Linked DNA regions of Homo sapiens: all the other regions are reported to be linked to region 4. Evidence: microRNA targets listed by miRTarBase, many of them from high-throughput screens and not tested one by one. Region 4 holds a microRNA gene; each other region holds the end of a gene's coding sequence.

Evidence for each region. Region 4 holds the annotated microRNA hsa-miR-548bb-5p (AAAAGUAACUAUGGUUUUUGCC, at 1,356-1,377, shown strand). A microRNA usually pairs through its seed, bases 2 to 8, with sites in the 3' UTR of a target mRNA and lowers its output. Matches are read on the target gene's strand: a 7mer-m8 pairs with bases 2 to 8, a 7mer-A1 pairs with bases 2 to 7 and ends in A, and an 8mer does both.
Region 1: miRTarBase lists EBNA1BP2 as a target of hsa-miR-548bb-5p. Seed matches in the 3' UTR shown: 7mer-m8 at 764-770.
Region 2: the mRNA of KLRC3 is a reported target of hsa-miR-548bb-5p. Seed matches in the 3' UTR shown: 7mer-m8 at 533-539.
Region 3: miRTarBase lists PTCHD1 as a target of hsa-miR-548bb-5p. The part of its 3' UTR that is shown has no 7-base or 8-base seed match.
Region 5: miRTarBase lists VLDLR as a target of hsa-miR-548bb-5p. Seed matches in the 3' UTR shown: 7mer-m8 at 598-604 and 7mer-m8 at 1,898-1,904.

Annotation. Positions count from the first base shown.
Region 1 is chr1:43,161,804-43,165,028 of GRCh38, reverse strand. It overlaps EBNA1BP2 (EBNA1 binding protein 2), which reads left to right. Exons shown (of 9, transcript NM_006824.3): 8 at 224-386; 9 at 536-845. The coding sequence ends at 586. Among named protein-coding and RNA genes, the nearest start is that of MIR6733, 8.3 kb to the left of the region's middle.
Region 2 is chr12:10,409,693-10,412,953 of GRCh38, reverse strand. It overlaps KLRC3 (killer cell lectin like receptor C3), which reads left to right. Exons shown (of 7, transcript NM_002261.3): 7 at 338-639. The coding sequence ends at 382. It overlaps KLRC4-KLRK1 (KLRC4-KLRK1 readthrough), which reads left to right and starts at 2,808. Exons shown (of 13, transcript NM_001199805.1): 1 at 2,808-2,855. It overlaps KLRC4 (killer cell lectin like receptor C4), which reads left to right and starts at 3,197. Exons shown (of 4, transcript NM_013431.2): 1 at 3,197-3,261.
Region 3 is chrX:23,393,663-23,396,923 of GRCh38, reverse strand. PTCHD1 (patched domain containing 1) reads right to left here. Exons shown (of 3, transcript NM_173495.3): 3 at 1-3,261. The coding sequence ends at 2,739. Among named protein-coding and RNA genes, the nearest start is that of PTCHD1, 60 kb to the right of the region's middle.
Region 4 is chr3:60,615,953-60,619,213 of GRCh38, reverse strand. MIR548BB (microRNA 548bb) reads left to right here and starts at 1,344; the gene lies at 1,344-1,409. All of the region lies in intron 4 of FHIT (fragile histidine triad diadenosine triphosphatase), which reads left to right. It also overlaps the pseudogene MTERF1P1.
Region 5 is chr9:2,653,431-2,656,691 of GRCh38, forward strand. VLDLR (very low density lipoprotein receptor) reads left to right here. Exons shown (of 19, transcript NM_003383.5): 19 at 403-3,261. The coding sequence ends at 438. The region is part of intron 2 of LOC105375957 (a long non-coding RNA gene); the gene reads right to left. Among named protein-coding and RNA genes, the nearest start is that of VLDLR-AS1, 33 kb to the left of the region's middle.

The DNA of each region.
Region 1 (3,225 bases), not on the chromosome of region 4:
GCTTTATTTTCCTGCCCTGGTGGTCAAAACTGTAAATAGGTGAGCTAGATGAGTTTGTCTAGAGAGGCTGTAGCATAGGATTGTGGGGCCAAGGATGAGATTCTGGGTTACAGACGTGCCTAAGGGGCTTTGCTTATAGAAAGGAAACTGAGAGCATTGCTGGGCCATCAGGTTCATCAGGCTTTACAGTGCTGTAGTGATGTCTAGGACCATTCTTTTCCAGGCCCAGTGCTAAACGACGGTATAAAAACCAGAAGTTTGGTTTTGGTGGAAAGAAGAAAGGCTCAAAGTGGAACACTCGGGAGAGCTATGATGATGTATCTAGCTTCCGGGCCAAGACAGCTCATGGCAGAGGCCTCAAGAGGCCTGGCAAGAAAGGGTCAAATGTAAGTGAGCCCAGGTGCCCGGGTGAGGAGCAGGCTCAGCCTCCCCTCCCACTCCCAACCCTGCCCTCTCCCTTCAGTTCTGTTCGTCCTCACCCTGGGGCAGAAGGCAAGCTGCTATGTGACCAGATGTGGTATGTCTTTTTCTGTAGAAGAGACCTGGAAAACGAACAAGAGAGAAGATGAAGAACAGAACACACTAAATAGCATCTTTGAATACAAAGAACCAAGAAAAAGGAATGAAGACTCGCAATTTCACGACACACTTTGATCCCTTCTGTTGGTGTCATGTTGTAAACATTTCTTTCAATAAACTAAAGAAAAATTATTAAAGGAACACATACCTTTGGTTAAATAGTCTAGACTAAAAGATTGAGAAGTTACTTTCCATTGCTATCTATTGATAATTTAGACATTGAGTTCAAATTGCCTTCATTTTATGATAAATAATGATTTAACTGACACCTTCTCATTTCCTTTGTCTCATCCTTCTAAATAGTTATATTACGATCAATCCCTGTAAAGCTCAATGCCCATATTTTACAGGTGTGAGCCACCGTGATTTTCTTTGTGGTACAGCTTTTGGTTTTTCCTCCAGTTAACCTTCACCTTACATTCTTCTGCTTGCCTAATTTTCCTTCTATATTCTTAGTTCTTTCCAGATGCTTTGTCATTTTACCCACTTTATAATTTTTCTCCTACAACCTAGTTATGCCACACAACTGTCACCTTTTTTCTAGACCGTTTAAGTTGGCACCATTATTTCCAGAATCCCATGTTTTCCCATCTTAGCATATGCCTTCTTTTGCTGTGTACCATTTTTTGGTATCTTACTAAGAAAGGGAAGATGAGAGGTAAACTTTTTATCTCCTTGCATTTCTGAAATTGCCTTTAATTTGGGCTGATAGGAATTTCCTCCTTAGAATTTTAGAATTTCGCAGGCACTGTTTTTAAGTTTTATTTCAGTTCTACTTTTGGGGGGAGATATATTTTTGTTTTTTAAAATCTTTTTTTTTTTTTTTTTTTTTTTTTGAGACACAGTCTCACTCCATCGCCCAGGCTGGAGTGCAGTGATACAATCTTGGCTCACTGCAACCTCCACTTCCCAGGTTCAAGTGATTCTGCCTAAGCCTCCTGAGTAGCTGGGATTACAGGCGTGCGCCACCACACCCAGCTAATTTTTGTATTTTTAGTAGAGACAGGGTTTCACCACGTTGGCCAGGCTGGTCTCAAACTCCTGACATCAAGTGATCCACCTGCCTCTTCCTCCCAAAGTGCTGGGATTACAGGCGTGAGCCACCATGCCCGGCCTAAAATCATTTTATTGAATATGAAGTTTAGCTTTCATTTCATTTATCCCCCAAGAGTTTCTTATTCTCTATTTGGTCATTTTTCATATCATTTTACTCTTATCCTCTAGATGCAGTATCTTATATCTCTCAGAATATGATTATAGTTTTAATTTTTTTGATAAAGTTTCCCTCTGTTCCCTTCATTCTGTTTCTGCAGCCCATGCATTTTGATCTCCTCTTTCCCGTGTTTGAGCAGTAGAGTATTGTAGAAGCTAAGAAGCGTGGATTCTGGGGCCTGGCTGTGTTGCTTACTTGCTGTTTGACCGTAGGGAATTTAATTTTTATTTGCCTTGTCATCTCTAGCATAATGTAGATGTATCTACCTCATTGGGTTCCTGTCAGTATTCGGTTAATCAATGTAAAACACTTAGAACATTATCCTAATATAATCCGATAATCTGATAATCCTCTCATATTCCTTTGATTAGGATTGTTTTGCTGGGGTTTCTTTCCTTAATATCTGGCAAGCCTTGGTTGTTCATACATAAGCGGAAGCTCTGCGTAGGTGGTACATTGAGTAGGCAGGCCACATTAATTGTTGGGCTTTACTCTGTGTTGATAGGGTGGTAAACCATTTTACCTGCCCCTTCTCTCTCCATTCCAGTTTAGAAATCATACTTTATTTTTAAAGAAGTTAGAAATGCCTGAGAGCTATATAGTATCTTTAGCAGAAAGAATAATTTATTTTCACATTTTCTTGTAGCATTATTGGCACATGAAAAGGATATTTCTGGATTCATATAATACTAAGATTGTAATGTAGAACAAAGAGAATTTAGTTTTTGTAAACTAATTTCAACTAACAAAACTGGTCACACAGGTCATATCAAGAAGACAAAAATATTTACTCTGTCCTCTTTCATAATTCATGCCATATTATTGAATGGGGATAATGTGTAACAGGCTCAGAAGCAGTTTGAGACTTTGAATTATGCAAGTAAATATTGAGAGTTTCACAAAAGAAAGCACAGGTTAACAACATTTCACATTGATAAAGCCAAAAGTAAGTTTTTAATAACAACATACCTCTAAAGGCTTTCTTGAAAACTATGTCCCCCCTCTTTTACTTCTTGTTTTTTTCTCTTTTTTATTACAGAGCAAAGATTTACATATGGACTCACTTTCCTTAGTTTTAGAAATATCCTCTGTAGAACTCATTTACATCACTTCTATCATTCCAACCCTCAAAATAAAGGGTGATCAAGGTGCAGGTAGCATTATGCCTTCTTTTTCTTTTTGTATAGACAGGGTCTCACTCTATTGCCCATGCTGGATTACAGTGATGTGATCATAGCTCACTGTATCCTCAAACTCCTTGGCTCAAGCAATCCTCCTGCCTCAGCCTCCCAAGTAGCTGGGACTACAAGTGCATGCCACTATGCCTGGCTAGGTGTTTTTATTTATTTATTTATTTATTTATTTATTTATTTATTTATTTATTGTAGGGACAGGGTCTTGCTCTATTGCCTAGGCTGGTCTCAAACTTCTGG
Region 2 (3,261 bases), not on the chromosome of region 4:
AATCTTTCTATAGGCTCACTGGCCTGTCTTGTATTAAGCATCAAGAGAAGAGTCTTTAAAAATCCCATTTATGATTGTTTACTTGTTCACTTTATTCAACTATATGTTGAACTTGTATCATTAGGTATATGCAATGATAAAAAATATATTACTAATGGTTTGGAAAATTAATTTATCATTATGAAGTATATTTCCCCAATTTCAGTAAATTTCATCTCGGCTCACTGCAGCCTCGACCTCACCTCCAAGGCTCAAGCGATCCTCCCACCTCAGCAACCAGAGTAGCTGGCTACAGGCCAATACCATCATGCTGGCTAATTTTCGTATTTTTTTGTAGAGACGGGGTTTCATCATGTTGACCAGGCTGGTCTTGAACTCCTGAGCTCAAGAAATCAACACATCTTGGCCTCCCAAGTTGCTGGGATTACTGACACAAGCCACCGCCCCTGAGTGCTCATGTACCATTTAGCTTGTGTTTTAAAAATCTACTTTTTCTGCCCTCCCTATTTTTAACTAGATGATGTTTTAAAAATTACTTTTCCCTCTCTATATAGTTTGATTTAAGCATTAGTCATTTACAACAAATATTAATATTAAAATGCAGACCGTTATGATTGGAAAATAAATCAATGAACAATATAATGAGTGGTTTTTATATATTTCAATCTCTGGCGTGGTGATATAGTACAATATTTTTTAATTATTTATTCTTCCCAGAGACATATATTTCAATGAGAGTTATCTGATTAATTTATTTTTAAAAAACTGAATGAGAGAATTTTAAGAACTATCAAGAAAGTAAGTTGGGAATTTAACTTTGAGAATTGATGTCAATTACAATGAAGTGGAAATGTATTTTCTCAGAATAATTAGTGACAAATACATTAAATTCCTATTGGTAAGATTATTATTTTAAAAATTTATCGTCATATTAGCAGTGATATTATAGGGGTATATGATAAAGAAGTACGTAATCCCAAGTTTTAGCCACCCTGTGTAAATGTAGAAGTTAAACATGTAAGAGACTCTGAAAAAGGTATAAGATTTTAGTGTTTGTGATTGAGATGGAAACAACTGCATGGGTAGTAGTCTTTGTTCTCCCCAAATCTTGTTTACTATAAAAATAATTTCTAAAAGTCACTTGAAAATGGACAAACTAAATGACACCCTAGCAGCTCAGTCTCTTATATTCTGAGGTGTATGATGAGATAAACTGATTCAAAATGGCCCTAGTGTGAAAACTTCCTGTTCAAATCCGAAGTGATACATTGATGAGGAATCTGCTTTTTGCACTCTTGCCTCACTCTGAGCTTTCACAGGGCAGTCTGTGAAGATCAGAGATATCTGTTTTTTGTTTTTTGTTTTTTTCTGAGACAGAGTCTCGCTCTGTCGCCCAGGCTGGAGTGCAGTGGCTCCCGATCTCAGCTCACTGCAAGCTACGCCTCCCGGGTTCAACCGTTCTCCTGCCTCAGCCTCCCAAGCAGCTACAGGCGCCCGCCACCACACCCGGCTAAGTTTTTGTATTTTTAGTAGAGACGGGGTTTCACCGGATCACAGATGTCTTTTGTGTCGTTAAGAGGTAACCTGACCTCTCCACTAAGGGGCGTGTGACTTTCTGATGACAGAAGGTATGTGTTGCTAGTCTCCTGTTTCTCTACTAGCTCATCTCCTTTAGTAGAAAATTGTAAATATTAAATGTGATGCAACAAGGTAAAGTTAATACAGAATAAAATCAAAGTAGAACTGTCTGTACATGAATAATTCAGGGTGAAAAGCAACCCAAAATATAATATATGTTTGAGGATTTCTTAAAGTATTTACATTATTGCCTGTGGAGAATTAGTCAAGCACATGCATACATCATAATAGGTTTGTTAATCAATATAATTTAGAGTGAAACCGATAAATATCACGACAATGAAGAATTAATTTGAAATTTTATAATCATTATAGATGTAATAATACTTTATATTTAGCCCAGACTTTAAAAATGCATTTTTAATGGATACATCAAATTGTGAATGTCAAACATAATTTCTCATACACATACTTATATTTAATTGAAGCAGATTTTATTTTTTTAAGAATGTAATAATGAAGTAGTTTCCATAAAATGCAAATCTAAACTTAATTATAAATAATAGGACGACCTAAAAAAAATTGAGCCAAACAAACATTGCAAAAAAGATGTACTACACTGACATGAGACTCCTACCTCATTAGTTATTTTACACACTCAGTATGAATTAGAAATAATAAAATGGCAATTGTGTTAAAAATAATTAAAATATCTAATATGTATTGAGGACTAATGTGTGCCAGGTTGTATGTTAAGGGTTTTATATACATTATACTTCATAAATTATTTTCCCCAATCTAGATTAGTAAACTGGTGTTGTAGACACCAAGTAACTTTGTAAAGGTCATGCATTATGAGTTTCAAAGCTGTAATTAATTTTAGGTCTCACTGGCTACAGAGCTCATTGACTAGATTATTAAATTATATTTTCTGATTTATTACAATTACTTACACAACCAAAGTGACCCTCGCTGCCTTTTAAAACAACCACAGGGTCTTTCTGAAAGTTTGAACTTAAAGTGTTCTTTCATAGATGGTCCAAACTTATATTTATCATTTTCAGTTTTCCTATTTTAGTCATTAAATCAATTACCAATCAATTCTGTAAAATAAAGAGTTAAATCTTTTTCAGTAGTATTTAGTTTATGCATAAGTTAATGTAATGTTTTACAAGGTATAAAATATTTCTTTAAAATTTTAACAATTTTTCTGTTTTCCTCAATCATTCAGAATAAAAAACATTTGCCAAGACCTCATGCCCTTTTAGTAAACGAATGTAAGTCACTAACTTAATGTATTTTAGTATTAAAAGTTGTTCTATATGCCAACAAATTATTCCTCCATCTTTAGCGCTCAATCCTTACATTAATGAATTTTAAAATTGTCATACAATTAGTGCATTTTATTTTCAAATTTCAATTTTAGTTTTTTACACAGGTATTCTATTGGTGATAAAATATTTCTGTAGAATCTGATTTTAAATTAATAAAGATATTTATATTCAGTTACTTCTTAGTTTTCACAAATGTATTGTTTTTTATTGTTCCCATTAATAATATTATGTCAAATATAGAAGGCCTTTTAAAAAGTGACCTATTGTTTAAAGAGATTTCAGTTTAAAACTTTAGGAAATTAGTACCAGACTTTTATATTGGTCAACAGCAAAATGAACATTACTACTC
Region 3 (3,261 bases), not on the chromosome of region 4:
TTCTAAAGTGTCTTCTCCATAGCGGGGCTAAACCAATGCAGCAGAGCAATAATCAATAATCAGTATTAACAAATAAATAATAATTATCTAACAATAAATAATAAATCTTGGCATGCATAATCTCCCAATAGAAAAATTCATTTCACAGTCAGAATTCCATAAGCCTTCATTTCAAGTGCTGAAAAGAGAAGTTGACAAGTTTGAAAATGCCCTTCATTAAAAAATACAATATCCCAGGGTATACAGAGACTCAATCAAGTTGGAAAACTATTATCTGTCATAAAACAGAGTTCCACAGGAAGTCATTCTGGTTGACCAAATTGAATGATTAAATTCTCAACAAAATCCATTTAATTGGTGTGTGTGTTGTGTCAGGTTTTGTGGAGCTGCTTTAAGCCGAGGTGCTCCACGTGGCTGACACTAAATCAATGACTGATTTAGAACACACTGTTCAGAAAATGATTTAGCAACACATGATTTAACAGTAAAACCAATCCCCTCTTCAGTTGTGTTTTATGAATAATAGCCTAGTTGCGGGCCCCTTGGAGAGAGAATTGATCGAAGATCTATTATGCAAACTTGCCCTTTTGTCAGGACTGTACTTGCCCTCAGATTAAAGCTTATTATCTTCTAGTTGAGTGTATAACACGTTGGTATGATCACTTAGTGTGTCTGCAGAGAAGACTGAACGACTGTGTAATGCATTAGCTACAATCCCCTGCACATGTATTTAGAACTGTATGGACAACAGTACGTGAAATAGAAAGCACAGGTTTGCACTTGGTGTGGTTACATCTGAATTATTTGGCCTTTTGGAAAGACAATGGCAAACCTAAACCTCAAACATTTTAATTCCAGACACTAAAAAAATGTCTGCCCTGTGGCCAACGAAGTCCTATGTTCCTACTTTGGAAATGCATTTTGAGAGGAGTAATAGCCATCTTATGAGAATACTGAAAATTGGACTGCCCTGTCTTAGGTATGCTGAAATGATGAAAACCCTTTAGTGGTGTGACCTGAGTGAGTCACTTTATTCTCCTAGGTCTCAGTTTCCTCCTCTGCAGAAGATAGGTAAGCTGCACAGTATGTCTGCTAAGGTTCAGAAAGGTAAGATGCTTTTGGGAAATGCTTACCACTACAGATGTCTAAGGAAGCTACATCTCTAAAAGGGAAAAATACTGTAGATATTTGCTTCAAATGTAACCAGGTTTTAGCTTCATTTTTATAAATTTAAAGAAATGCAGGGGCCTGGGCAACGTATACAGCCTTTTTAGATCTAAACCATTTCTGTTTAGATCTATGAACCATTCTTCTGTAGATACTGGAAGTCAAGAGTATAAATATCTAGGCTTGTTAATTTACAGAAGGGCCTTGCTATGATGACGCAGAAGGACATCAAAAAAGGTGTGGGGGGGACCAGCAAGGTGAGGTGCAGCCACTTTAGCAAGAGAATTGGACTGCCATCATTGATAGATTTGTATCAGTGAATACTTTTTCCAGTGTTTTCCATCTATCTCCCTTTTGGCCCTTTATCTCCCTGCACTTTTACAAAGCTTCTCAGCGTCAGGACTTAGACTTACCAAAGATCTTCTTCCCCTCTCTGTCTCTGAGCAGGTGTGTTTCACAGCAAAGGCAGACTGGCACTACAAGTTGGAAGCAACAGCAAATAACTATTTCAGTGTTCATTTTTTTTCCCCGCAGTTTTGTGTGGGCAGATGTTTCTGGATATCCATGCAAAAAATGCATGTAGGGCCAATGCAAACAGCTGTACCAGCTGGCTATTTTGTTGTTGTTGTTAAAATGGAGACACTATATCTGGGTCCAAGTAGACACCTGCTTTTGCTCCATCATGCCAGGTATTTGGGTTTGGCCCTGTGGTTTTGGGTCCCTGGATCCTCCTGCCAAGAGCTGTAACTAATAAAGCAGACCCATTTGGTGACAAGTGACAAGCTATTCCAAAGTAGAATCACACCAATTCTGCAGTGCTGGAGCTGTCATTGGTTTTAAGGTGTTTTAAGCAAACCAAACTATACAAATGTTAAAGGCATACCAATGGCGGAATATGATAATTTCATTCTAGACAACGAAACTGCTTCACCTGGGTAAATTTAGCGGTGAATCAATTTTAGTCCATGAGTGATGGCCACTCTACCACATATCAGTTTCCAAGGCTCTGGCTTGCTTTTGCTGGTCAGAACTTTCACAAGTATCTCCTTCAGTGTTAGGGAGCTAGGTGAGACAGCTAAAACCTCAAACCACAGACCATGACTGGAGCTACTGCTCTACAGAAGTTCTGGAAGCCTTATTGTTTGAACAATGCTTAAAGGTGTTTCTGCCTTGGCAGTTGACCTTTCAATCAGTGGGTTTTGTCACAATGCCAGCAACATCTGCAGTTTGGATAAGGCAGGATCCTGCTTGTTAATAAGCTTTCTTCTACTTGATCTTAGTTTAAGAGACTATAGGTCTCCCAGGGTGTGTGTGTGTGTGTGTGTGTGTGTGTGTGTGTGTGTGTGTCTATGTGTGTGTGAATTCTCATAACAACTCCTTTGTTTTAAAGACTGAAAATATGCCAGGCCCATTTCTCCCCACTGTCCTTTCCTTTTTTTTTTTTTTTTTTTTTTGGCAATGCCTGTTTCCTATCTTTAAAAAAGGGAAGAACTTTGAATTTAATTGTTTCATTAACATAATCTCTTTGGTCTTGATAAGACCTAAGGTGAAAATATGCCAAGCAGACATTATCACACTGTTGTAATTTGGTCAACCACACGGGTACTATCGATATCTACCATTTCTACACACTCAATTTCCTCCCGGTTCTCAGGATTTTTCTTCTCTTTCCTTTTTTTCTTAGAGGGTGGCAGGAAAGTCAGTATCACAGGTAAAATGGCAAAGCAGTGAAAGAAGGTGACAAATGCTATTAAAAACAAGCACCTGAACAGTGTACAGGTCAGATTTGAAGGCACAGCTGCAAGAGGAATCAGACCAACAATATAGCAGAGGTAACTCTGTAAAATAGCTACCCCATGCACTTCCAGGGCATTTTTTACCCATTTAGTTCTTGTGAAATCCTTGCCCAGAACAAATGTGGATAACATTGGAGCACAATTGTCAATTGTGTAATTAATTCCATAAATTAAGCATAGCACAGAAATGCAGTCCAGTTCTACTTTCCATAATGTCATGAAACCTATCACTCCAAACTCCACGGACACAACTGTGAGAGTGATCCAGACGTTAATCAGTGAATCTGCCACCAGGAAT
Region 4 (3,261 bases):
AACAGTAGATAGCTTTTTTAAATGTAATTACTCTTGTAAGAGGAAAAAATACATGATACTAAAGGATTGTATTTTGTGACCACCTATAATGCAACAAATCATCTACTTAGTTGCTATGTTAATCTTTGCTGCTGTAACAAATTATCAGACTCAGTGGCTTCAAACAACACAAATTTATCATCCTGTGGTTCTGTAGGACAGAAGTATGATACTGGGCCCACTGGGCTGAAAAGGTACCAGCCGTACTGCATTCCTTTTTGGGGCCTTTAGGGGAGATTCTGTTTCATTGGCTTTTCAGTTTTCTTTGTGGCCCCCTGCATTCTTTGGCTTATGGTCCCTTCCTTCTTCAAAGCCTCCTTTTCACCTCCTTCAAAGTGGTCAAGTCTGTCTTATACAGCATCATTCTGACCTCTTTTGCCTCCTTCTTCCACTTTTAAGGACCCTTAGCATTATATTAGGTCCACTCAGATGATTCAAGGTCATCTCAAGGCCCTTAACTTAATCAAATTTCAACTTAATCACATTTGCAAAATCTTTTTGCATAACATATTCGCAGCTTCTTCAAATTAAAACGTTGACATCTTTAGGTGTGGCCATGATTCTGCCTGCCACAGTAGAACTTGTTTTCAAAGTAATCAGGTTTTGCCCTCAGCAAATTAACGCAGGAACGGAAAACCAAGCACCACATGTTCTCACTTACAACAGGGAGCTGAATAATGAGCACACGTCAACACATGGAGGGAACAACACACACTGGGGCCTGTTGGAGGGGTGCTGCTGGGAGGGAGAGCATAAGGAAGAGTAACTAATGGATGCTGGGCTTAATACCTAGGTGATGGGATGATCTGTGTAGCAAATCACCATGGCACTACCATCTCTACAGCAGCACAGCCTGTATCAAATAATGGTATGTTGGAGTAATTCAAACTGGAAAATAGGTAGCTAGGAGGACTGCACCTGAGCATATCAACCATGAGTTTCCATAAACCTGTAAAACAAAATAGCCAAAGAATTATTACATATATATATCTGTGGTTAAGAAATCATACCCCTCCTTTTTGAAAGGCCCAAATTCAAAATGAAAAGATACCACTACATTATATGACTGGCTTTCAAAAATTCCCCAGTGTTCTGCTTAACTTTTTAAATTTACTTTGTATCTTTTTTTTTTAACTCCAGAGTAGAAGAGTGATGCTTGATGTCCTCAAGTTACAGCCAGCATTTACTAATTCTTTGATTTGACTTTATAAAGTACTTATGCTTGAATCCAGAACCCAAGGATTTTTCAGTTATCACAAATTACTTTCACAGAAGGCTAATTTATTATTCTATGAGACAATCCATTAGATTGGTGCAAAAGTAACTATGGTTTTTGCCCAAAAACCATAGTTACTTTTGCACCAAGCTAAAATATTCTTCTCACTAAACTTTTTCTCTGCCAAAAGATCACATCTGGATAACTTTTTTTCCCCACATCTGGATAACTTAAGGCAAGCTTTTGTACCTCTTCTTCAGTACCTCAGAGAGAAAACAGCTTCTGTTTGATATTTGTGTAGTTTGTTTTGGCATAGTCATTGGAAAGGTCTAGGATTTTGGTTCCTGGACCACATATTAAAATAGCAATTCCCTACTGTTCAAATTGAAACTTGCCTGTAAAAATTCAATGTTAGTTTTTACCTGCTTGGTACCCTGAATTAAGATGAAAGGGTTTTAAAAAATCATCTTTCTTACAAAATCTGTGGGATCATTGTGACCCAATGAAAAATATACTTCCTGCAAAACTTTAACCATCTGTTTATTCAGATCGAGACTATTGGAAAAGGTACAAGGGACATTGGTCAACAATCAACAAAGGCATTTACAGGTAAATCCAGCTGAGTAGAGGAACTCATAGAATCCCTAAGTTTAGGTTTTCATGGGACAAAAGAAAGCATTCAGGAGAATGGCCCAAAATATTTACAGTATCAAGATCTGATATCATAATCCTTCATAGATCCCATTGTTTTGAAAGACGTTCAAGAGTGTGTGTTATAGCTTTTAGTTATTTTGATATGATGCTAACAATCACTTCTTTGCTAGCTCCTTTGGAACGAAGAAACATCTTCAGGTCCTGCTCATTGGGAACATTCTGTTAAAAACTCCAGGCTGTCGTTTCTTTGCCATGTCAGTATCCACTTCCATAGTAAGTTATTCAGTGGTTCCTCATTCTCCAAAGCTCATTGTCTGCATCGTTTCACTTCACACCAAAAAGCCTAAGTGAAACTGATTTGAAGAGCATTTCTGCTGAAAATCAGGTCATCCAACATTTTGAATTAAAGTGAAAGTTCTCATATACCAGAGATTTCTTGGTGCCATAATAGTCAGGTAGCCCAAACCTTTCGGAATGCTGTGTGCCGTAGATGGCTTTTACTTTGGCTTGGGATTTTTAAAACTGAGGTTGCATTGAATGTATAGGTCAAGTTGAGAAGAACTGATATCTTGACAATATTGAGATTTCCTGTCTGCGTATGTGGATAGCTTTCCTTTTTCTTAGATCTTTTGTATTTCTTTCAGCAAAGTTTTATAGTTTTCCTTATATAGATCTTTCACGTTTGATTTATACCTAAGTATTTAAATTTTTGGCATTAATGTAAATGGTATTGTGTTTTTAATTTCAAGTCCCAATTGTTCATTGCTAGCAATAAGAAGACAATTGACTTTGTATATTAACTTTTGTCCCACAAGCTTGCTATGATTGCTTATTAGTTCTAGAAGTGTATTACTTGTATAATTAAAAAAATTTTAAAAAAGAATCAAAGAGTATGGAGGAGAAACTTTCAGCACACCTGTGCACATCATAATCATTAAAATGTGATGAAATATGTTGACACCAGGTGTTGCTTTTGTGAATTTCCTGTAGTGGCTTAGAATCACTTTTGCTTATATTTTCAAATGTGAAGATTTGTATAATAAATTAAACTGAACAAACAAGAAAACATCTGGGGTGAGTTTTTGTAACAGGTGTTGTGTAAATAGGTCTTGTGGATATCCAAACAGGTGACACTACCTAAAATATACACACATGTTGGACTCAACATGCACAGAAACAAAGCATGTGGAATAGAAGAACCTAGACAATGGTAGTCCCAAGAATTGTGACCTAATGACAAGTGATATTACTGACAAGGGTGTTAATAACTCATAGACAGATCAGAGTTTCGATAAGGAAAGCAGGGACATCTCTCAATGTACAGCAATGAGGAAGACTTCATTTGTGCACAT
Region 5 (3,261 bases), not on the chromosome of region 4:
TCTTCAGATGAAACCCAAGTGGAGTATTTGGCCTTCACGTAGGAAACAGGCTGAACAAAACAAGTATTGATCACTCCCCTCTCAAACTCCGGTGAAACATGGAACAGTGGTCAATTCTTGACACACACATGGCTTTTCACATTTTTCCCCAAGACTTATGATCATTAAGTAGAAAAGACAGAATTAGTCACACTATCTTATCTCACTACCAAGCAGGTATAGTTGAATTCAAGTTAAATGCATGAATGATACAACTCAGTATTCTTTTGTATCTGACTGACTTTTCTTCTAAGCACTCTGAGTGTTTGAATGACCAACTCAAAAGCAAGGTCCATTTTAAAGACTAGAGTTGCCATCAGTGAGTGATCACCAAGCTCATTCTATACTTCTTCTTTTCCACAGATATCAGTTGTAAGCACAGATGATGATCTAGCTTGACTTCTGTGACAAATGTTGACCTTTGAGGTCTAAACAAATAATACCCCCGTCGGAATGGTAACCGAGCCAGCAGCTGAAGTCTCTTTTTCTTCCTCTCGGCTGGAAGAACATCAAGATACCTTTGCGTGGATCAAGCTTGTGTACTTGACCGTTTTTATATTACTTTTGTAAATATTCTTGTCCACATTCTACTTCAGCTTTGGATGTGGTTACCGAGTATCTGTAACCCTTGAATTTCTAGACAGTATTGCCACCTCTGGCCAAATATGCACTTTCCCTAGAAAGCCATATTCCAGCAGTGAAACTTGTGCTATAGTGTATACCACCTGTACATACATTGTATAGGCCATCTGTAAATATCCCAGAGAACAATCACTATTCTTAAGCACTTTGAAAATATTTCTATGTAAATTATTGTAAACTTTTTCAATGGTTGGGACAATGGCAATAGGACAAAACGGGTTACTAAGATGAAATTGCCAAAAAAATTTATAAACTAATTTTGTACGTATGAATGATATCTTTGACCTCAATGGAGGTTTGCAAAGACTGAGTGTTCAAACTACTGTACATTTTTTTTCAAGTGCTAAAAAATTAAACCAAGCAGCTTAACCATGGTTTGTGCCTGTTCCTCTAGGATGAACTCCTATCCTGAGTAGTACCAAGTGTTCTAACTAAATGTGTGAGCTGTAGTTCTTGATGTTGTATAACTAAGCCTGTAATTGGGCTGGTTTCTCTTACACCCTAGCACAGTTAAAAAATGAAGTACTGTTTAACATTTGCTCCCGAAATATTTCTTACTGTGTAAAAGAAGCTAGCTTAGTCTGTACCTAGAATTCCTCTTGGTTAGAGGAGTGAGTTTCTTTTTTTTCCATTAACTTGTTTCCTGATCGAGAAACACGTGCTAAGATTTCTATGAATTCTGCTTCTTTATAGTTAAGTCTCTGTTTTCCATGTTCTGTCATTTATATAGGTCAAGGACAAGTGCCTTCTAAGGCATGGATAAGGGCTTTCTTCTTATGAAAGTCTAGACTGTCTTACTGTGAAGATGGCCAGGGAGGATAGCAAGCAATGGCATTCTTGAACAGTCTAAGGCAGGTTTCTCAGTGTGGTCCTGAGAACAGAAGCATCTGCATCACCTGGGAATGTATTAGAAATGCAAGTTCCCAGCCCCATCCCAGACCTACTGAATCAGAAACTCTGGGGGCGAGGGCTGAAACCTGCTTTCATAAGCCCTTCAGGCGATACTGATGTAAACTAAAGCTTAAAAACCACCGTTTTACTGTGACTTCATGAAGAATATAATTGCAATATCACCTAAATTTTTATCCTGGCTGGGATGGGGCAGATTCTTACTATGGACAATTTCTGGAACTTACAGTATGAAGAGCAGATGAGGAGTTTGAGACAAAGAAAAAATTGTACAGGGAGTTTAGTGAATTTTCCATCAGGTTGGCCATTACTTTCTTTCTCTAAAGTCTCAGGATGTCTGGAAGCAAGGAAAGACAAAAGACTTGAAGCACCGGGTGCATGCTGTGTGTCACAAGTGAGGTGGAGAGTTGGCTGTGGAAGGTACAGCAATTCCTCTGGAATTAAATGACCGACCAACACAGTACCAAGAGGATGAAGAGAAGATGTTTTGCGTTGCTACGTGAATCAGTGGATGACTCATATTTCACTTGCATATGAAATATAAGGCAGTTAACATCTTGTTTGTGGCTTAAGCAAGGACATTAATCCTACTAGATGAAGGGGAAGTTGGTTCTGTTGTCTTAAGGGATGCCCCCTTGTGATTTTGGTCAACTGAATGAAAAAGAAAAGATAGCCTTGGACTTTTTTTTCATGGGAGGTTTGGAGGTCAAGCATGTAGAAGGAAAAGGCTGTAGTCATGAATATAGAACTGTCTGCTCTCCACCTTTTCCTCACTCTACATTTAGTCATCACACTGAACAGGATGTGGCCTGCTGACAGTGAGTAGCTGAAGTGCCTGTTTGGTAAGTAGGTTAGCATTCATCATGAACTCTGAAAGCCATTTCAGAGTTTGGCTGCTGCTCTGACCCTGCTGTGGTACAAAAAACATGGATTTTTTTTTTTTTAACTGGAGTAATACCAAATTCCCTTTAGAAGCTTGAAGTTTGATACTATTGCTTTCCCCATTATAAGGATTATACAGTATTAATTAATTATAAGGCCCAAAGTTTGTTTTGGCAAATAAAGTATTATTCTCTATCATCATCTTTTGAATTCCTGTCCCTAGTATGTTCTTTCATGTTCTGGGTAAAATTTCCAACCCTCAAAGAGTCTAAAACGTCTCATTTTTTTTTACCACGTCCTCCCCAGTAAGAAGCCAAGGTACAACTCATTGTACCTACGAGGTACAAACTCATTTGTAGAAACAAAGTAACTAGATATTCCTATTGAAATAAGAATAGATATATTGGTGGGCCAGGCATGGTGGCTCACGCCTATAATCCCAGCACTTTGGAAGGCCAAGGCAGGAGGATCACTTGAGGCCAGGAGTTCGAGACCAGCCTGAGCAACATGGTGAGACCCTGTCTCTACAAAAAAAAAATTTATAAAAATAAAAGAAAAAAATAGTTATATGACTAAACTACTAGTCAATACAGCTTGCAATAATAGTGCATGAATGATAACAGGCCTCGGCTTTATCACCCAAAAAATAACTTGAATTCTATGTGAAATGTGTTAGGATAAGTTTGCTCTGTCTCTAGAGTTCAATGTAGAAGATAATTAAGAGGTAAAATATGAAGCTTATCATACACTAAAGGAGAATATTTGGAGTTAGATGAGCCTGTCACACAA